Linked DNA regions of Homo sapiens. The protein of the gene in region 3 purifies or fractionates together with the protein of the main gene of each other region. This does not show direct contact. Each region holds a gene or a part of one and is shown on either strand. Other genes may lie near its edges.

Region 1 (7,000 bases), on a different chromosome or scaffold from region 3:
CTCATCACCCTGCTCACTGTAGGGTGTGCTGTGAAGCCAATAGTAAGTCTCGAATTAGCAGTTGCTTGTCCATGCCACTGCTGCCACAAAGGGCCAGGCCACAGCCAGGATGCTGCATCCTGTTGTTTTTGGGCAGCCCAAAACAATTCAACATGACGTTTGTGCGGAATTGCTGGCTTCACCCACCAAGTCTACTCCTCAAGCAGGCTGGCTCTTTAGGATTTATCTTGTTCAAACAGATCTGCCTACTAGAAGAGATGCCATTAAGGAAACCCACCTCAATGACTATTCCTCAAAACTAGGATAGGTGATCTCCTGGAAATGGCAGTGATTTCCAGTTATTCAAATAGTGACTAATAAAGCTCCACTAACCCTAACCAAAGGCACATTTGGTAAGCAATAAAAAAAATGGCTTAACCTAGGAAGAGGATTTTCATTTAAAATAAATCTTATCCCCTGGCTCCTAACAAAAATAAAATTGGAAAAACCTAAACCAAGCAAAACTTTTCTTTAAAAGCAGTGGCTTCCAACTTGCTTTTCAACTCAGTCACCACTAGAAAGGAAGTAGAAGGCAAGGCAAATCAAATTTACAAGTTCTAAGTCCTAGAGACAGTGGCAAAGCTTGGGATAAGGTGGGAAGTGATGGCCAGGCTGAGATAGAGGGAGATCCAGGGCAAATGGAACAACCCTTTGGTGATACAATTCAAGGACTTCCTATGGTGGAAGGAGCTAGTGAGGACAGTAAATTCCAAGACATACGACCTATCTGGAATGCTCAGGAAGCAACAGGCTGCTGCAAGCTAGCACCTGGGAAGGGACAATTGTTCTGAACAAGAGATCAAGGCTAAGCACAACACAAATCCTACAGGGAGAAGAAAAAGAAAACAATGCTTGGGTATTTGATTATGTCTAAAAATGAAAACAATGAAAAAAAAAGAAAACAATGAGCCATTCTTTTTAGCAGTAGAAATAAACCTAATTACTCATAAACCATATTTTGAAATGAGAATAAATCAACAGCTTCATTTTGGAGCCTTTTAGAGTGCTAGAATATCTGGCCAAGGTAGACTGTGAAAGGTAGGCTCTTCTTTAAACACGGTTATGGTTCAGCAGTTATTTGCAGGTCCTTGGGAAGGCACTGTGCTGAAGGAGAGCAAAGAGTTTCTTTTTGTGCTTTTTTTTTTTTGAGGTGGAAATATTTCTTGTGACAGTCAAGGCTCTTTTCTGATTTTTTGTTGCTCATACAAGCAGTCCCATACGAGTGACTTTGGCCGATAAAAACGTGTGCAACACAAATACAATCGGCTTCGGACAAGAGTGCAGGTCCATGGTCTGTGGAGAAAGGACACTAAGCATCACTACCTCACTACCATATACAGACAACTTAATAAACGAAGATGCAAAATAAATTTAAGGTAGGTAAAGAATGTGCCAGAGCTATGGAAACTCTTAGGAACTTAAAGCCACAGGCAAAAGTGCACTATGGAGTAAGGTTATTCCATGTCATAATACTGGTGTGAGGTTTCACATCCCCAATTAGGAGACAACTGGTGGTGTACTGGGTTTCACCATGCCTGGTAGGAAGAACTAAATAGTAGAGGATTTAAAATCTAAGGCCAGGCACGGTGGCTCACGCCCATAATCCCAGCACTTTGGGAGGCTGAGGCGGGCAGATCATGAGGTCAGGAGATTGGGACCATCCTGGCTAACACGGTGAAACCCCATCTCTACTAAAAATACGAAAAATTAGCCAGGCATGGTGGCACGTGCATGTAATCTCAGCTACTCGGGAGGCTGAGGCAGCAGAATTGCTTGAACCAGGGAGGCAGAGGTTGCAGTGAGCTGAGATGGTGCCACTGCACTCCAGCCTGGGCGACAAAGCGAGACTCCGTCTCAAAAAAGAAAAAAAAAAGAAAAATGACGGCAACAAAAACCAACACCCAATGCCATCTTGAAAACTGAAGAAGAGCAGATACAGTGGCTCACACCTGTAATCTCAACACCTTGGGAGGCCAAGATGGGAAGATCACTTGAAGCCAGGAGTTCAAGACCATCCTGGGCAGCAAAGCGAGACCTCATCTCTATAAAGAATATAAAAAATTGGCCAGGCATGGTGGCACACACCTATAGTCCAGTCCCAGTTACTCAGGAGGCTGAGGTGGGAGGATCACTTGAGCCCAGAAGGTATAGGCTGCAGGAAGCTATGATTGCACCACTACACTCCAGCCTGGGTGACAGAGACCCCATCTTTAAAAAAATTTTTTTTAATTTAAAATTTCATGGTTCTAAATGGAATGTCAGTCCATGACTTTGTATATAAGGGGTAAGAAGTAATGAGAAGGAAAGAGAACATCTATTAGATAAACATGTGTTTCAGAAACACTCTTACCAGTTCTCCCTCGGGACCACCAAAATCCAAGTATAGATTTCGGATGCCATCATCAGCAGACATCTTCAGCCTTTCAAAGGGGTAGCGGTACAATATGCTGCTGGAGCCTCCATTTTCCCTTGAGATGGTGAACCCATTTTCATAGTGAATAGTAAGCCTCACCTCTTGGCCATTTAACATGCAGCCTGTTGAAGAAAAGCAAAAAACATTAGTTGTAAAGTTGCTATGTCAGTTATCAAGTGAAAAGGGAATCTTCTGACTTCAAAATAGGAAAAATATTTTCTTGAGAATGTGTGATACCTAACCTGTATGGAAACTTCTAAAGTGTGTTTTGTGCTAGGCGTGGTGGCTCACGCCTGTAATCCCAGCACTTTGGGAGGCCGAGGCAGGCGGATCGCAAAGTCAGGGGTTTGAGACCAGCCTGACCAACATGGTGAAACCCCGTCTCTACTAAAAATATAAAAATTAGCTGGGTGTGGTGGCGGGTGCCTGTAATCCCAGCTACTCAGGAGGCTGAGGCAGGAGAATTGCTTGCACCCGGGAGGCGGACGTTGCAGTGAGCCAAGATTGCACCACTGCACTCCACCCTGGGCGACAGAGCAAGACTGTCTCAAAAAAAAAAAAAAAAGAAGTGTGTTTTGTTTTGGTCACTGAGATGAGGCAGAAATGACCATAACACTCCTTGACATCTGTTCGATTTAATTCCTCGAGTACCCACTGAACACTCATACTGGCAAGTGTGTGTAGGCTGTGCAAGGCACTAGAGAAGTAAGAGGCACAGTCCCTGCTCTCAAGGACTTTGTAAACTCATTGGCATAGACAGGAAATCCCCAATTGTGTAAGGCAGAATGTACAGAACATGAGCAAACACCAAAGTGAATGAGGCCAAAGTCAAGAAAAGGTTTCCTGGAGGAGATGGGCCTTCAGATAGGCCCTAAAGAATTGGTAATACTGGCCGGGTACGGTGGCTCACACCTGTAATCCCAGCACTTTGGGAGGTCGAGGTGGGCGGATCACTTGAGGTCAGGAGTTAGAGACTAGCCTGGCCAACATGGCGAAACCCCGTCTCTACTAAAAATACAAAAATTAGCCAGCCATGGTGGCACATGCCTGTAATCCCAGCTACTTGGGAGGCTGAGGCAGGATAACTGCTTGCACCTGGGAGGCAGAGGTTGCAGTGAGATGAAATCACGCCACTGCACTCCAGCCTGGGTGACAAGAGCGAGACACTGTCTCAAAAAAAAAAAAAAAAAAAAAAAAAAGAATTGGTAAAACTGGACAGGCAGGGAGGAAGAGGCAGAAGGACTGAACTGGGCAAGAAGGACCAACCAAAGGAGCAAAGGCAGAGAGGCCTTTCAGGAGCCGTGACATGGTTTGGTTGGCATTTGGGATGAAGATAAAGATTATGTTCATCAAAGTTAAAGGCTATACTCAGCAAAAGTCACAGTCAACGCTATCAAAGATACAATTCAAAGGACACCTCTGAATTGACAGGATACAAACAATTTTGGTCATCAAGACTGGCAAATGCCCCAGGTGTGGTGGGTCATGCTTACAATCCCAGCACTCTGGGAGGCTAAGGCAGGAGGCAGGAGGATCACTTGAGGCCAGGCGCTAGAGAACAGCCTGGGTAACATGGCAAGATCTCATTTCTATAAAAATAAAAAATGTATCTGGGCATGGTGGTGTGTGCCTATAGTCCCAGCTACTCAGGAGGCTGGGGTGGGAGGATCACTTGCGTCCAGGAGTTCAAGGCTGCAGTGAGCTATGATCATGCCACTGCACTCTAGCCTGGGTGACAGAGCAATGTCTAAACAATTTTAAAAAGAGAGATTTAGAGATTCTTTTTTTTGTTTGTTTTGAGATGGAATCTCCTTCTGTCACCCAGGCTGGGGTGCAGTGGCGTGATCTCGGTTCATTGCAACCTCACCCTCCTGGGCTCAAGCAATTCTTCTGCCTCAGCCTGCTGAGTAGCTGGGATTACAGATGTACACCACCACGCCCGGCTAATTTTTTTGCATTTTTAGTAGAGACAGGGTTTCACCACGTTGGCCAGGTTGGTCTTGAACTCCTGACTGCAAGGGATCCATCCACCTCGGCCTCCCAAAGTGTGGGGATTATAGGCGTGAGCCATTGCACATGGCTTCTTTTTTTTTTTGGAGACAGAGTCTCGCTCTGTCTCCCAGGCTGGTGCAGTGGCGTGATCTTGGCTCACTGCAACCTCTGCCTCCCAGGTTGAAGCAATTCTCCCGCCTCAACCTCCTGAGTAGCTGGGATTACAGGAGCGTGCCACCACACTAGGCCAATTTATGTATTTTTAGTAGAGACAGGGTTTCACCATGTTGGTCAGGCTGGTCTCAAACTCCTGACCTTGTGATCTGCCCGCCTTGGCCTCCCAAAGTGCTGGGATTATAGGCATGAGCCACCGTGCCCGGCCTCCTTTTTTTTTTTTTTTTTTTTTTTTTTTTGAGATAGAATCTTGCTGTGTCACCTAGACTGGAGTGCACTGGCGCAATCTCAGCTGACTGCAACCTCTGCCTCCCGGGTTCAAGCAATTCTCATGCCTTAGCCTCCTGAGTAGCTGGGATTACAGGCGGGCACCACCACACCCAGCTAATTTTTTGTATTTTTTAGTAGAGACGGGGTTTTGCCATCTTGCCCAGGCTGGTCTTGAACTCCTGAGCTCAGGCAACCCACTTGCCTCGGTCTCCCAAAGTGCTGGGATTACAGGTGTGAGGCACGGCACCTGGCCTGAGATTTTTTTTTTTTTTTGAGATAAGAGTCTCACTCTGTCATGCAGGCTGGAGGGCAATGGCGCAACCTCGGCTCCCTGCAACCTCCACCTCCCAAATGATTCTTATGCCTCAGCCTCCCGAGTAGCTGGGATTACAGGTGTTTACCACCACACTCAGGTAATTCTTGTAGTTTTAGTAGAGACAGGGATTTCACTATGTTGGCCAGGCTGGTCTCAAACTCCTGACCTCACGTGATCTGCCCACCTTGGGCTCCCAAAGTGCTTGGCCCCTGAGATTTCTTTTTTCTTTTTTTTTTTTTTGAGACAGAGTCTCTCTGTCGGCCAGGCTGCACTGCAGTGGCATGATCTCGGCTCACTGCAACCTCCGTCTCCTGGGCTCAAGCAATTCTCCTGCCTCAGCCTCCCGAGTAGCTGGGATTACAGGCATGTGCCACCAGGCCTGGCTGATTTTTTGTATTTTTAGTAGAGACAGGGTTTCACCATGTTGGCCAGGCTGGTCTCAAACTCCTGACCTCAGGTAATCCACCCGCCTCGGCCTCCCAAAGTACTGGGATTACAGGCATGAGCCACCGCGACCGGCCTGAGATTTCTTAAATGTTCTGTTTTGGATTGTTTCCCCTGGAGAAGGAAAGAATGGAAAGCAAATGTGACTGTGTGTGATTCTGTGTGTGTGTGTCAAACTTAATGTATTTAGGTCTAGATATTGAGCTTGTTTTAGTTTAAAAAAAATTTTTTTTTTGAGACGGAGTTTCACTCTTGTCACCCAGGCTGGAGTGTAATGGCGTGATCTTAGCTCACCACAACCTCTGCCTCCTGGGTTCAAGCAATTCTCCTGCCTCAGCCTCCCAAGTAGCTGGGATTAAGGCCTGCGCCACCACGCCTGGCTAATTTTTTGTATTTTTAGTAGAGATGGGGTTTCTCCATGTTGGTCAGGCTGGTCTCGAACTCCCGACCTCAGGTGATCCACCCGCCTCGGCCTCCTAAAATGCTGGGATTACAGGCATGAGCCACTACACCCGGCCATAGTTTAAAATGTATAATTAATACCAGATTCTTCTGAATGAGACTGTGACCTGGTCATGTAAATGCTGTGCCAAATCGAACCAATTAAACAGTTTTTCTCTAAACATTGAGTACATCACACCACAGTGATGCAATGATGATTAAGTGCCTGACACCCCTTACCCTTTTAGGAGTAATGAACCAAAGGGAGATAGGGGAAATAAGCCTTTCATTCTGATTTAACAGCTATGTGTGTGTGTATGAGAAGTGGCTTTTTTTTTTTTTTCAGTATAAATTCCCCATTTAGTAAGAGGAGTGGCCCTTTTCTGACGGGATAGCATCTGGGACTTATTAATGGAGCTGTTGCAGGTGGCTCATTATGTCTTGGTTCACTTAGAATGCTTTTGGATGGCTATGTGTCCACTATGCACTCCAATTTATAGATAAGTCAGTAAAAAATTCAGTATGTTGGCTGGGCGCGGTGGCTCACGCCTGTAATCCCAGCACTTTGGGAGGCCAAGGCGGGTGGATCACAAGGTCAGGAGTTCGACACCAGCCTGGCCAATATGGTGAAACCCTGTCTCTACTAAAAATACAAAAATTAGCCGGGAGTGGTGGCAGACGCCTGTAGTCCCAGCTACTCGGGAGGCTGAGGCAGGAGAATTCCTTGAACCTGGGAGGCAGAGGTTGTAGTGAGCAGAGATCAAGATCGGGCCACTGTACTCCAGCCTGGCAGACAGAGCAATACTTTGTCTCAAAAAAAAAAAAAAAAAAAAAAAAAAAAAAATTCAGTATGTTGATTTTGTTTAACAGGGTTGTTACCAGAAATAGAAAAAGACACACAATAGCAGCAC
Region 2 (7,000 bases), on a different chromosome or scaffold from region 3:
TGTTATATACATGTCTATTCTAGTTTCCTTAGCTATCTCTCTTATCTCTTCTAATTTCTTTGGAGGGAAAGACCACACTTCTTATTTTTTAACACGTTTTCCATCATCAATCCTTATGTTTAGCACACTGTAGACTAGTGATCACTGGACACACTAGGCATGTACTTGCTAGACCAAGCCATAACAGCTGCTGAAAAAGCCACTGGATGTGCCAATCACCCAAAAGCCTCACCATACACTTGTCCAGGTGCGTCTGTATGACGTCAGGGTCTACGTCCTTCACATCCAGAACGTGAAGTTCTGCTTTCACGCCATCCAGCACACGCTTGCAGTCCAGCATGCGCTGCTCGAAGTTAGCTGGCTTCTGGAAAAGCTGGAACTTTGTGGACACCTCTCGGAGTTTCCTCTGTTTGCAGAAATGAAAATATGCAATTCCCATCAGGATGATTATCTCTCTCATCATGAGCATAACAGATACTACTAAAAATTTGTACCATAAAGTACCAAAAGAAAAAAATTCAGAAATATGACCCAAAATAAAAAACTCCTAATGAATCTCAGTGAGGGTACCCGATCACCTAAGTGAACTGCATAGCCCAGTGTCAAAAATTACAACACTCAGTGTCTCAATCTCAGAAGTAATAGATTTGGATAAGAAATTTAGATAAAGCTGACCTCACTGGAATTAAAACTTCATGTTCAAAAAGATAGTTCAGGAACCTAGAACTCAAAATGCCCTTCATCACAAGTTCAGAGTGAAAGTCAATGTCATATCAACCATGAAAGAACTAAATGATGCTGCATCCAATTCATGCTCGGCCTGCCCACAGCATCAGCCACACGATACTGACAGAGGCTCTGCATTAAAGAAAAAGTGTATATAAAGCTAACTTCTAAATCTGGCTCACTCTCTTGTTTCTCATCTCAGCTATCAAAATCAGATTTCATATTTTTCCACACATGCAACAATTTGTTTCTGCTGCCCTAGGATGCAACCTTCAACACATCATCACTCCCATCCCATGGTTTACATCACAAAGAATACAAACGGTGCCCAAGTAATCAATTCTTTCTCTTTTTTGAAGAAAATTCCCAACAAGTTGAAAAGTAAAAGGAAGCTCCTGGCCTTCTTTACCTGTAGCACATCCATCTGACTTCCTCCTCTGGCAGTCCTACTCTCTGGGGAGGTCAGGGGCTGAGAACGCATATTTCTTCTCAACTCCTCTAGGGTTAGCTCATGGGCTGAGATCTCTGCTTGGATTTTCTAAAAAGAGATTGGAAAGGGGAGAGGATGTCCTTTTTTTTTTACTTAAGTATAAAAAGAGACAATACAAAAGTTCTATATCGTTGTGTAATACATGATATCGTATTTTACATAATGTTGACCTCCACAGAAGCTTTAATAAGTTTTTGTAGGCCAGGTGCGGTGGCTTATGCCTGTAATCCCAACACTTTGGGAGGCCGAGGCGGGTGGATCACGACATCAGGAGTTCAAGACCAGCCTGGCCAAGATGGTGAAACCCCATCTCTACTAAAAATACAAAAATTAGCTGGGCACGGTGGCGGGCGCCTATAATCCCAGCTACTCGGGAGGCTGAGGCAGGAGAATTGCTTGAACCTGTGGGGCAGAGTTTGCAGTGAGCCGAGATCGCGCCACTGCACTCTAGCCTGGGCAACAGAGTGAGAATCCGTCTAAAAAATAATAATAATACGTTTTTGTATAATAATAATAATATGGCCCACTGCATGGTATGACTATTGTACATGACGCACCTGCTAAGGGCTTTGCATTTGTCGTTTCTAATGTTCACAACTTATTTATAAGGAAGGAATTGTCCCAACTTCACAGCTAAGAAAACTACAATTTAAAATATACAGGACTTTTCAGCCAGGCACAGTGGCTCACGCCTGTAATCCCAGCATTTTGGGAGGCCGAGGAAGGTGGATCACCTGAAGTCAGGAGTTTGAGACTAGCCTGGACAATATGGCAAAACCCCGTCTCTACTAAAAATACAAAAATTATTGGGAGGCCGAGGCAGGCAGATCACTTGAAGTCAGGAGTTCAAGACCAGCCTGGCCAACATGGCGAAACCCCGTCTCTACTAAAACTACAAAAAATTAGCCGGGCGTGGTGGCGCGTGCTTGTAGTCCCAGTTATTCGGGAGGCTGAGGCAGGAGAGTCACTTGAACCCAGGAGGCGGAGGTTGCAGTGAGCCAAGATCGTGCCACTGCACTCCAGCCTGGGTGACATAGTGGGATTCTGTCTCAAATAAATAAATAAAATAAAATAAAATAAAATAAAATAAACTATATAAGACTTTTGCCAGAGTCTCACATAGAAAGCAAGAGAACTCCAAAACCCAAATGCTGCCCTGTAAGTAAGGTCAATCTTTCCCATTGACTCTCGGTTTTGGAGAGCAGGAGGGGTTCTCTTATAGTTGAGGAGGCAATTACAAAAGCTCTCTTTACAGCTCAAAAGCCCTCAAATGCACGGCAATACCTGAGCTTCCTGTGGAACTTGGAAAGCATCTATCCTGTCAGTCAGGTATGTGGTGAGCTGTTTGTCCAGCTCCCCCAAGCTCTCTTGCAAGACTTGAAGCATCTGGTCAGTTTCCCGCAGCACCTGGAGTTGCTTTTCCAAAGAAATCTGCTTGCTCTCTGCCTGCACAAAGGAGAAATTGAATCATTAGTTGCCCAACACAAATATAAATAGCAGAATATATATATTCTGGCCACTAAGAAAAGACCATAAAAGCTTTCATCCAAGACTTTAGCTTTCTTTATAAATAAATAATAATTACTAATGATAACAGTGAAAATGTCCCACTAGGATCTTATGTACCATGCAGCTGAATTACTAATTATTACTTCTTTCTATATATAATGTTGAAATACAAAAATGTAAAGGTTTCCCATAAGATGCATTAAACAGAAGATAAAAATGTGTTATTTATTATAATTTTAAAGCATTTTTAGGAATCAGCAATGTCTGCCAATTAAGAATATAAAACATAAGAAAAATGTCTATCAATACACAAACATCAGAGTCTCTTTTTTTCCAAAGCCTAAAACAAATTCTATAGGTGTACATACATATCAAACTACTATTTACAGCACTTTTGGGTTAAGCTTGATGTTATTCATGGGCTGAACATCAACAGTTATTATTTAATATGTGTTTGGAAGCACCTAATATTCATACCCAACCTTCCTATAAAAGAAATGTTCTTTCTCTAATTTGTGATACGAATATGTATGTTACAACCTGGATATGAACTAAGAGACTATGGCTTTCACAGCAGCTTATGTGAAATATCATGGCCCTAATATTTACTAGGATAGTATGAGTTGTTGTTCTTATATACAGCTATCATATGATCCTTAATGAAAATTAAATGTTTGTAAGTAGAAGTAATCTCAAAAATAATTTTTTTAATCATCCAGTTCTGTCTTAGAGTGTTAGATCTATTCTTCCTTTCTGAATATTTCAATACCCTCAATGCCCCTGTTAGCATTGGTTACCAACTTTAACCAACATTAAAGATTTTTCCAACATTAAAGCTCTATGATATGGAGCTTAGGGCCAGCTCCACTTCATCAATACCTAATCAACACCCATGTATGTCCCAACTCTTACCAGGTGACTTAGATCTTCATATCGGCTGTTGAAAGCCTCCAGTTTCTCACTGATTATATCATCCAGGATCCCCCCATCAATCAGAGTCTGGCCAAGCTCTCGAATCTGGGTGCGATTATCTGCCGGGTGGCGCAGAACAGATTCCAGAGACTGGAATGGAGATGGGAAAAAAAAATAATAATGCATTTACTAAGGCAAAAGGTATCAAGGATCCCCAAAATGTCTATTTGTTAAACAAGTAATTATATTTTCTAAAAATCTACCTAAGTAACAGGACCAAAAGTTAAGTAAATTACTAATTCACAAAAATATCCATCATGGGATTAAAAAATGCATAAAATTGAGAAATTAGCACAAGTGATATATGATATAATTTCACAAAAATAATTTCAACTATTATTAATTATGGGAGGGTGAGGCAGGAGGATCACTTGAGCCCAAGAGTTCAAGGCTGCAGTGAGCTGTCATACCACTGGACTCCAGCCTGGGCAACAGAGCGAGACTATGTCTCTAAACAATAAATAAATGAATAATAAAAAGTTAAAAATAATTATTAATTATATGGGGAAATGCTCATGACACAAAGTTCAAAGGCAGAGAACAGTACTATACAAGCAAAATGATCTCAACTTTTATTAATTATATTACTAAAAATAAGTAGTCATTTTCCTACAATATATGCAGAATAAGAGGCATTGTTTTATATACACACTTTTTATATACATAAATCTAATTAACCATATGGGCTAAATAGCATTCCCAGTTTACAGATTGGAAAATTGAAGCTCAGAAAGGTTAAATTACTTGCCTACATACACACAGTCAAAAGAAGAGCTAAGATTCCAACATGGCTCTAAAGCTTTAAGACTCCAAAGCCTGGCCAAGTGCGATGGCTCACACCTCTAATCCTAGCACATTGGGAGGCCGAAGCGGGTGGATCACCTGATGTCAGGAGTTCGAGCCCAGCCTGGCCGACATGGTAAAACCCCATCTCTACTAAAAATACAAAATTAGCTGGGGTAGTGGCACACGCCTGTGATCCCAGCTACTCAGGAGGCTGAGGCATGAGAATTGCTTGAACTCAGGAGGTGGAGGTTGCAGTGAGCCAAAATCATGCAATTGCACTCCAGCCTGGGCAACATAGCAAGATTCCATCTCAAATAAAAAGATAAATAAGTAAATAAAAGACTCCAAAGCCTTTGATCCAATATACTACCTTCTAGTATGCATACATAAAAGATAATAATTAGGAAGAAATCTACAAACTGTTTTAAAATGTTTATCTTAGAGTTTGCTTTATACTTTTCTTTATTTTCCATATTTCAAGAATATATACGTATTCACTCTTACATTAGGAAAAAAATTAAGCTTTTCATATTTTTCATTCACTCTGTCTCTCACTCTGCTATATTTGAGAAGTGACATCTTTTCTCTAGCAGAGCATCCGTCTCCTGGAATGTAAGTGCCACATTTTACTCATTTCTGACCTTTAATCCAGTTGTCCACTCAGTTCCCACATGGTACCATGACATTTTTAAAAGCCTATCTACCCCCTTCCCTTTTCTTTTTTGTTAAGCAAACCTACCCTCTTTGCACTGTATTTCATTTAAGAAACGGTTATTAAGTTAACATGTGCTACACACTGTGCTGGGAACTGAGGAATAACAAAGCATCGGGTACATTTCTTGGCCTCAAGGAGTTCAAATCCAGGCTTGAAGACAAGCTCCTACGACAAGATCCCATGGCTCAACCACTGTCTTAACTTCTAGCATCTGAAGGTAAGAGACAGGAATCCCCTATAAACTGTCAGTGCTGTGTTTAGTGAGTAAAAATAACTTGTTGATGAAACAAGAGAGCAGTTGTCCTAATAACATATGGCAGAGCTTTGTCCAGGGCCTACTAAAATAAACTGGAAAACCACTAGAGTGCTTCAACATGTCTAAAATGTAAGATGTCAAACAGCTAACCACGTCTTGAGGCTGATATAATGGGTCACCAATAATCTAAATACACATGATTGTATAAACACTTCAGGCTATGGAAGAAAATGCAAGTGACATTGAAAACCACTGAGGAAGCAAATGCATTTGCCTGCGTAAAGCATTACATTCCTCATTGTAATACACGTGTGGCCTCATCACAGCAAAGAGAAATGCCGTGGAGATCACGGGTTCCAACCTCCAGGGCTTCGTTGACAGCATCCGTCTTCTCAGGCAGGACCTCTGTGCTCTTCATCCGCTCTTCCAAAGTGTTTAACCAGGTAGTTTCAAGATCCAAATAGTGAAGCAGTTCAATCCAACAAGACCAGACCTCCTAAAGCATGAAAAATTTTAAATTAGACAAAAAGCCATTTCACACATCGTATCTCTAGTACTACACATTCTCTTTAATCGCTAATAATTTCATTTGGATGTGAGTATACCTAGGAATTCAGAACTGATGGAGTTGAAACTTCAAAAAAATAAAATAAAATCGGCCAGGCGTGGTGGCTCACGCCTGTAATCCCAGCACTTTGGGAGGCTGAAGCAGGCAGATCATGAGGTCAGGAGATTAAGACCATCCTGGCTAACACGGTGAAACCCTGTCTCTACTAAAAATATATATATATATATAAAAATATTAGCCGGGTGTGGTGGCGGATGCCTGTAGTCCCAGCTACTCTGGAGGAGGCAGGAGAATGGCGTGAACCCGGGAGGCGGAGGTTGCGGTGAGCTGAGATTGCACCACTGCATTCCAGCCTGGGCAACAGAGCAAGACTCCATCTCAAATAAAATAAAATAAAATAATCAACAAAATCATATGAGACCAGTTGGTGAAGGGTGGGGAGCAAAGAGTGGGCAAGAGGCTGCCTCACTCTTTAAAATAAATTCCATGATCTGATTTAAATGTCAAAAATAGAACTATATAATTAGTAAGAAAAACAGGAGAGAAACATTATTTAGTTTGTTTTTTAAAGACCAAGTGCGGTGGTTCACACCTGTAATCTCAGCATTTTGGGAGGCCAAGGCAGGTGGATCACATGAGGTCAGGAGTTCAAGACCAGCCTGGCCAACATGGTGAAACCCCATCTCTACTAAAAATACAAAAACTAGCTGGGCATGGTGGCAGGCACCTGTAATCCCAGCTACTCGGGAGGCTGAGGCAGGAGAATCACTTGAACCTGGGAGGCAGAGGTTACAGTAAGCCCAGGCCACGCCACTGCCCTCCAGCCTGGGTAACAAGAGTGAAACTCCATCTCAAAAAAAAAAAAAAAAAAAAAAAAAAAGTTTGGTTTTTGAACAAAATGAAAAAATTGCTCCCAATTGTAAATTTTTAAAAAATAATTTCATAGAAAATTGAAATCTCCTGGGCCCCACCCAATTC
Region 3 (7,351 bases):
CAGGAGTTATATATAGAGCCAAGCAGGCAGGCCATGGCCAGGGATGGACACTGGCTTCTTTCACCGGGAGACCCCGCCCCTGGGCACACAGCTCCCCCAAGCCAGCTCCAGGGCCCTGGGATCCTCCTCCCCCTGTCCTGAAGGAAGAGGACCAGGGGACCTCTTCAGAGACAGGGCTGTCTCAGGTCCCCAGTGGACAGTGGGTGCTATCCACAGCTTATACCTGGAAAGGCCCAGTTTTTCCAGGGCCCAGGACAAGACCCGCCCAGGCATTTTGAGGACCCTTCCCCAGAGGGAAGGCACAGCCCATCCGGCTGCCCAGTCTCTGAAATCCTGCTCCCCCACTCCCCACCCACCCCACCCTTCCTCCTCCTCATTCTCCTCCTCTTCCCCACCCCCATCCTCTCGCCAGCTGCAGTCTGGGCACAGCACCAAGACAAACGCTGTCTTGCTGTCCACCCGCCTGGGCTGGCCAGCCCTCCAGAAGGCGGAGTAGGGTGGTTCTTAAAGGGCCCAGTACAGCACCCCTCCCACCCAGGAGGGGTTCCCCAGTGGTGAGAGGGGTGGAGGTGGAGGGTTGATGCCAGTGTGGTTGCAGAAGCCTGTTTGGGAGGAGGAAGGGACTCCAGACCCTCTCCCCCTATCAGGTAGAATCAGATACCCACCTTTGCTTCACATTTTCTGTGCGTCGCCACCTTGCAGACTAGGGAAGGTAAGGGGAGGAGAGGGGTTAGCAGGGGCCTGTGGGACAGTGGAAGGAATGGCCTTCCCTCATCTCCCAGACCCTGGAACCAGACCCTGGGACTTCCAAGATCCCACCTGGACTGGGCTGGCTGGGGCAGAGGAGCAGGGCTAGGTTTTGAGGGAAGAGTGTGGCAGTGGGGTACTACTGCCCAGGCCAGGGGTAACGTTCCAGGGTGGGTGGAGGTGAGGAGGAAGAGAGGGAAGGAAGACTACCGTCACAAGTCAGGATGGGAAGGTGATGGAGAGTACTGGCTCTCCTGGGTTATGGGAGGTGTCTGTCATGGGGAGCCAGGGCCATCTGAAGGGGGAGGCAGCTGCTTCTTAGCTGCCATTGTGCCTAATCCAGGAGCAGCATATTACATTTGAGATTGTGTGAGCTGGCCTGCTGGAGTTGTGCAACACAGTGGTACTGGGTGGAGGGTCTCAGAGTCACAGGACAGAGAGCCTCACCTCTGCACGAAACGCCTGTCCCATCGATGGTCACCTTACATACTGCACAGACTGGAGGTTTCTTCCGGAAAACCTTCTCCCGGAAGCTATGAGGCTCAGCTTTCCTAGGCTGAAGGTGGAGGGACAAACAGAGGTGTGAGTTCCCAGTGGGCCCATCTCCATCTCCGGGACTGGGCAGGAGCCTTGCCTTAGCACTGCACTGGTTTTCTCCGTCCAGATCAAGCCCTCAAACTTGTAGGACGCACTTGGCCACAGCTGCTTCAGGGCGGTCATGGGGCCTGTCCTCAACTGTGCATGGAATCTGACCCCTTGCGTCACCTTTGCTGGGTCAGCTCCTCCCCAGGGGATCACTTGGGCCCCTCACATGGCCCTGGTGTGTGATGCCCTTGTGGAAAAGCCTCCATGCTCAGGCTTTCCCCCTGGTGTGGTAAGGGTACTCCCTGACTCTTCCCATCTTGTCCTCCCCGCATGGAGACCTGTGTGCAGAGTGAGCAGGGAGGTTCCAAACATATGTGTTGTATGTCAGTCCTGCAGCACCAGACTGAGCCGGCAGGAGTGGCCTCAGCCAGTCCTGCTCCTTTAGCTCCTGCTGTCCCCACGCTCCAGGCAGCTGACATGCCCTCCTCCCCCACGGTCAGAACAACATGTTTACTCATTGTGCACTGAGGCAGCAGACAGCAATTGTGTAATGGGGGTGGTCATGCTGGAGGGAAACAGATAGAAGCCTGTCACTGGGGAGAGATGTTTAGCTGGCTTTGGATGCTGTGAGTTCTCCCCCGACCCCCTGCACCCTGGCACTTGGGATTCACGCATTGAATGAGAAAGGAGTGGACCAGATTCCCTGTTCAGCCCCTCCTGACCCAGAGATGCAGTGAGGCAGGAGCCTGGGATGCCCCCTTATGGCCCAGGCCTATCTCAGTCCCTTCCCCTCCCACTGTGGGTTCTCTCCTCCCATCCTCTGTCTGGGGACAGCTTGTCTCCTTGCCATCTCTCTGTTTTACCCATATTCCCCCTCCTCTGGAGTTCAGACTCCTGCTGTCCTCCTCCCGGGGACCCATCACAGTAGTATCTCAGGTTGTCCTGAGCTGCTGCTTTTGGGGCAAGGCTGGGAAGTTGGGAAAGGGAGTGATGGGGATGTGGGCAGCACCTCTGGTTTCTTGACTGTCCCTGCAACTCTTCTGGGCTGGATCAACTTTGTGGGACCCACTAAGACACTTGGGAGCATGTTGGCATTAGCAGCAGATATGGATGTTGTCAGTGGAAAGCAAACCTCCAGTTCCAAAGCACTCCTGACTCCCTCTCCTCTCTCTTTTTCCACCCTGCCACCCCATTTCCCTCAAACTTCCCTGGGCCAGGGAAGGGGCCTGATGATCTCTGAGCCTGCTGGAGGATACCTGGATAGCGCATGGCAAAGTCCTGCAGTGAGGCACCTGGGGCTTATGTTGGGGGGCCAGGACCTCCTGGGGTTGGCCCAGGCTAGAGCAGGGAAGGTGAGAGGAGCCAAAACAGACAGCAGGACCTACTCTAACCCAAACATCCCCTCACACTACAGCCCTGGCCACTCCGGAGGGGATGCTGGGCCAGGGAAGAAGGCTGAGGAAGCTGAAATTGGGAAGAAGGCCTGGCCTGATTCCTGGTCCCCTCCCCCACTGCCCGCACCTCCACCCCTGCCCCTCTTTTGCCCAGCTGGTGGGCACTCCTACCCTGCTTGCGGCCCGGCTGCTGTCCCTCCTCCCCAGGGCTCTGAGCAGCCTCTCCACAGGGCCGCTGGACTTCATGGTGTTCGGCTGGCTGGGGTGCTGGCCCCAGGGCCTGAACAATGCTGGGGCCTGGCCCGGGGCTTCCTGGAAGCGGCCTGGCGGAGGCAGCCGCTTCCCCTGGGCGGAGGGTAGGCTGTCTGGCTGGTGTGAGGAGAAGCCCGGCCCTGGAAGTGGAGGGAAGTGCAGGCGGGAAGGGGGCAGGTCGCTGCTCCAGGAAGTGGAGGGGGGAGGATGTGGGGGAGGCCAGGAGATCAGATTCCCAGGATCTACCCTGCTGGGAGTGTCAGCCTGTGATCTTTTGCTCCCCCTACTCCCCCAACTCTGGAGTTGTCCCACACCTGGGACACCACACTCTCCAGGGATCTGCAGGGATCCATGGTCTTGAGATTCTGCCCCCACCCCCGGTGGGGCCGGGTGAGAATTCTGGTCTCGGGGCAGGGCTAAAGGGCAAGTGGGGAACAGTGTGTCCCAGCCAGGCTCCAGCCTGAACTCTCAAGCTCTCGAGGGACTTCCGCTGGGGAGGGAGTGGAGCTGGGAACTACTACCAGCAGGCAGGCCCAGGATCCCGAGTGTGTCCTGAGAGTCAGGTAAAAATGGGACTGGGGGCCCCCTTCCTGTCTCAGTTTCACTCGTTATGAAGTAGGAAAAGGAAAGCATGCACCGCCCACCTTTACCCTCAATACACCTTGCAAGGCCAAGTTCCAGCCACAAGACTGCTTTGCTCAGGTTTGGGGAGTAATCCATTCTCCTGCCACAGCCTAAGGCATATGAGGCCCTTCTCCTGAAAGCCCCCAGGTTTCTGCTCCTGACACAGTGCCCCCCACTCACCCATTCCCTGGCTTTGTTTCAGACATGATCTCACAGATCCCTAGCCCTCTTTCCAGCCCTGCAACTTGGGCTCTCTACCCAAGGGCTGCACCCTCCCCCCGCGGCAACCCCGAAGCCTGAGTACTACCTTCATGGCTCTCCTGGGTCTGCTCTCCTTCCTCAGCAGCTGTCCCAGGGCCTGAGGACTGGACAGGAGGTCCCCCCTCCCAACACATACTCCACCCCCATCCATGGGCCTCCGGCCTCCCTCCTGGGAACATGGCCAACTTCCCGTCCTGGGAGTCAAGGGAGGGAGGTGGATGGGGCCTTGAAAAAGGGGGAGTAATCTTCCTAAAAGCTAAGGGGTTAATGGCCTGGGAGTCTTCAGCCCCAAGCTGTGGACAGCAGCCCCTGGGACAGGCTATAGCTGTCACTTGAAAGAATGTGCAAATGTGCCCCTCTCATTTGCATGGTATTTATTGAATGTCCCAGTACTCAGGCAACTCCCCCAGCCCTGGCTTCTCCCACGGAGTCCCTTCTACTTGCTTCCTGCTCCTTCATATCCACCAGGATGGGTTCCCTGGGATGAAGAATCCTGCATTCTCTGGGGTGAGGCCTGCTGTGGGTGCCCACTTGAGACCCTTGCGAGGACCTGACTGGATTGGGCCTAGCCTGACACCTCTCCCTGGAAGCTCCAATTTTCCAGGCCAAGAAATGTGTCCCCAGGATATCCTGGCCAGAAGGTGGCATCTGTGTGGCAGGCCTGGGCTCCCTGCCTGTAACTGGAGAGGAGCACGGGCTCTGTGACCCACCCCCATCCTGCCAGCCTGGCTGTGTCCCAGCACATTCCAGGCCCCCGGCCAGTGTGGGCAACCGGGCCTGGCCTTGTCGAGCCCCCAGCCCTGCTTGGGGGAGATGGGGCAGTGTGACAAGGTGGGCAGTGGGGGTGGCTTTTTTCTGTCCAGTCCCAGCTTCTGCTCCTATGGCACATGGCCCTGACCAGGACTCCTCTACATGCTTCACTCTCCTGCTGCCTCCATAGGGGCTGAAAGTCCCCTCACCTGGAACAGGTCCCCAGACATCCTCTCACCTTCACTGGTCTCACACTCCCCACCCAGACCCAGCAAGGAGGTGCCCAAGCAGTGAGCTCGGTGAGGGGTGGGGTGGTCAGGATCCACTGTGGCTGTGAGTCCCTCCCATCCTGTGGCACTCGCACCTCGGAAGGGAAGCAGGGATGGGATCCCTATGAGCCAGTCCCGAGGGGAAAAGTAGCTCACTTGAGGAGGGCTGGGAAGGCATCACTAGACCCTCTTGGACCCTCACCCTCCTCCCGCCTGTAACATTCCAGAGCCTGTCAACCTCTCCCCCAGCCGGGCCCCCTCTCTCTCCGAAGTCTTGGGTTTGTTTGGAGAAACCCCTCCACCCACACCCCCCTTTCTGGAAATAGCTGTGGTTGGAAGGGAGGCTGGGAGCCCGGCCGCCGCGGAGGAGGGGTAAGGCCCAGGGAAGGAGCGAGGGAGGGCGGCGGCTCTGGGGGTGTTCCCAGAAGGGTCTGGAGGATGGGGGCAGACTGGAGGGGGCCGCAGAGCGGGGCTGGCGAGTCGAATCAGCCTCATCTGTGCCCGCTTACGGCCTCTGTCCCACATGTGAAGCAGGAAAGGAAAACGTTCGCCCGCACCCTGCCAGGCCGGGGCCCGAGCGCCGCTGCCAGCTGCTGCCGGGTCCCGGGCCTGCGTGTGTGGCACGGCGTGCGGCCCCGTGCGCCCCGGGTGCTGGAAGGCGTGGCGGCCTGATCGAGTAGGGCCGCGGCCGCGCCCCGCCCCCTAGTCACTGTCCCGGCCTCCCGCTGCTCCCAGCTCTCCGCGGCCAGCCAGAGCCCCCGGCCCCAGCCCTGGGCCGCGCCCCGCGCCCCGCGCCCTCTCGACCTCCGGCGGCCCCGCGCCCCCTGGCGCCCGCCCCTGGCACTGCCCGCGCGGCCGTGACGCAGAGACCGCCGCCCGCCCAGCGCGGCGCGGCCACTCACCTGCGGGGGGCGCCCGGCCGGGCGGGGGCGCGGCGGGGCGGGGCAGCAGCAGGGGGAGCCGCCGGGCCAGCCCATCCCGCCCGTGCCCGCGCCGAGCGGACGCGGAGGAGGAGGCGGTGGCAGTGGCGGGAGCGGGCGGCCGGGCTCGGCTGGGCTCCCTCCCGCCCCCGCCGCGCCCCGCGCCCGCGCCCGCGCCCGTGGCAGCCCGCTCCTCCTCCTCCTCCCTCCCGGCTCCAATCCCCACGTTCCGCCAGCTCCCCACCCCTCGGCCTCCTCTCCTCCCCACCTTCTCCCGCGAACCCACACTCACAAAGAGCCGAGGGGAGAGAGGGTGCGCAGACGGCCAGCCGGGCCGCGCCAGGGACATACTGGAGACAGGAAGTGGCTGAGAGGGGGAGAGAGTTGGAGAGAGACGGCCGCGGAGGACACGGGGACGGGAAAGTCTGAGAGACGGGGAGAGCCTGACCCGGCGGGACACAGGCAGAAAGAAACACGCGAGCCAGACAGACGCAGAAGAAACGGTGGGCGTAGGTCTAGAAGGGACTAGGAACAAGGGGACAGGGAACTGCCGCGCAGCGTCAGCCTCTTACCCTCCCCACAGGAGTGTGCCTGGGCTTGGGCCTGACCTGAGAGGACCACCCGTGGCTTAGCCTGGTGGTGCTAGCGTCCCCTACCCAGGCGGGCGCCTGAATCAGGTGAAGACACCTGGTGTTACTTTTGGCCCAAGTCATTGGACACCCTTCCCTGGTCCTCTGCCCCACAGGAGACTTCTCCTGGGCTAGTATTCTCAAAGGATTCACAGCTGGGGACCTTTCCGTCAGGCTCAAGCCCCCATCTCCACCCGCAAGCAGCTCCAGCCATCCCATCCACTGCCCTGCTTTATTCATTGAGACGGGAGTCTGTCTCTGTCGCCCAGGCTGGAGTGCAGTGGCGCCATCTCGGCTCACTGCAACCTCTGCCTCCCAGGCTCAAGCGATCCTCCCACCTCAGCCTCCCGAGTAGCTGGGACTACAAGATGGGCGCCGCCACGCCCAGCTAATTTTTTGTAGAGATGGGTTTTCGCCATGTTGCCCAGGCTGGTCTCCAATTCTTGAGCTCAAGCGATTTCCCCTTCTTGGCCTCCCAAAGTGCTGGGATTACAGACGTGAGCCACCGTGCCCGGCCCATTGCCCTATTTTAAAGAGCTGGACCGTCATTCCCAGTTCGCAGGAGACCTCTGAGAAGGTCTTCCTTACATTTAACTTGAGTCCAGCCTTTCCAAATGGAGATGGAAGTTCTTTCTATGGTCTGACCTCATTCCCTTCTTTTGCAGTGCCTGGTACTGGATAGGAACTTCATGGAATGGAGCTAATGGGCCGTAGGGCAGGTTTGAGTCGTGCCACCCTGGAGCAGAAGGTGGAGGGTAGGGATAAGGTAGGGGACATCTTCCTAGAAGTTCTGAACCTGTTGCCATTCCTACATTCCCCCAACGTCCTTTAGCAGTGAGCACTTCCTGAAACTTTCTCCCTCCTTCACCCTCCCTGCTGGATTTTCCATGATGAAAAGGGGCGGGGGGAAGGAAGGTTGG

What was found. Proteins that work in one complex are often made in the same cells at the same time.
Region 1: the proteins of TNS2 (region 3) and SNTB2 purify together in Homo sapiens (affinity purification with mass spectrometry; 4 studies listed by BioGRID and IntAct, with this or other methods). This does not show direct contact.
Region 2: the proteins of TNS2 (region 3) and UTRN purify together in Homo sapiens (affinity purification with mass spectrometry; 4 studies listed by BioGRID and IntAct, with this or other methods). This does not show direct contact.

The regions. Positions count from the first base shown.
Region 1 is NC_000016.10:69,295,164-69,302,163, reverse strand, and holds part of SNTB2 (beta-2-syntrophin), read right to left. Parts: intron 2,575-7,000; coding exon 2,390-2,574; intron 1,333-2,389; coding exon 1,240-1,332; 3' UTR 1-1,239. UniProt on the Homo sapiens protein: Adapter protein that binds to and probably organizes the subcellular localization of a variety of membrane proteins. May link various receptors to the actin cytoskeleton and the dystrophin glycoprotein complex.
Region 2 is NC_000006.12:144,484,335-144,491,334, reverse strand, and holds part of UTRN (utrophin), read right to left. Parts: intron 5,951-7,000; coding exon 5,816-5,950; intron 3,788-5,815; coding exon 3,638-3,787; intron 2,663-3,637; coding exon 2,501-2,662; intron 1,265-2,500; coding exon 1,136-1,264; intron 407-1,135; coding exon 233-406; intron 1-232.
Region 3 is NC_000012.12:53,045,807-53,053,157, reverse strand, and holds the start of TNS2 (tensin-2), read right to left. Parts: upstream 3,094-7,351; 5' UTR 2,973-3,093; coding exon 2,898-2,972; intron 1,304-2,897; coding exon 1,195-1,303; intron 704-1,194; coding exon 666-703; intron 1-665. UniProt on the Homo sapiens protein: Tyrosine-protein phosphatase which regulates cell motility, proliferation and muscle-response to insulin. Phosphatase activity is mediated by binding to phosphatidylinositol-3,4,5-triphosphate (PtdIns(3,4,5)P3) via the SH2 domain.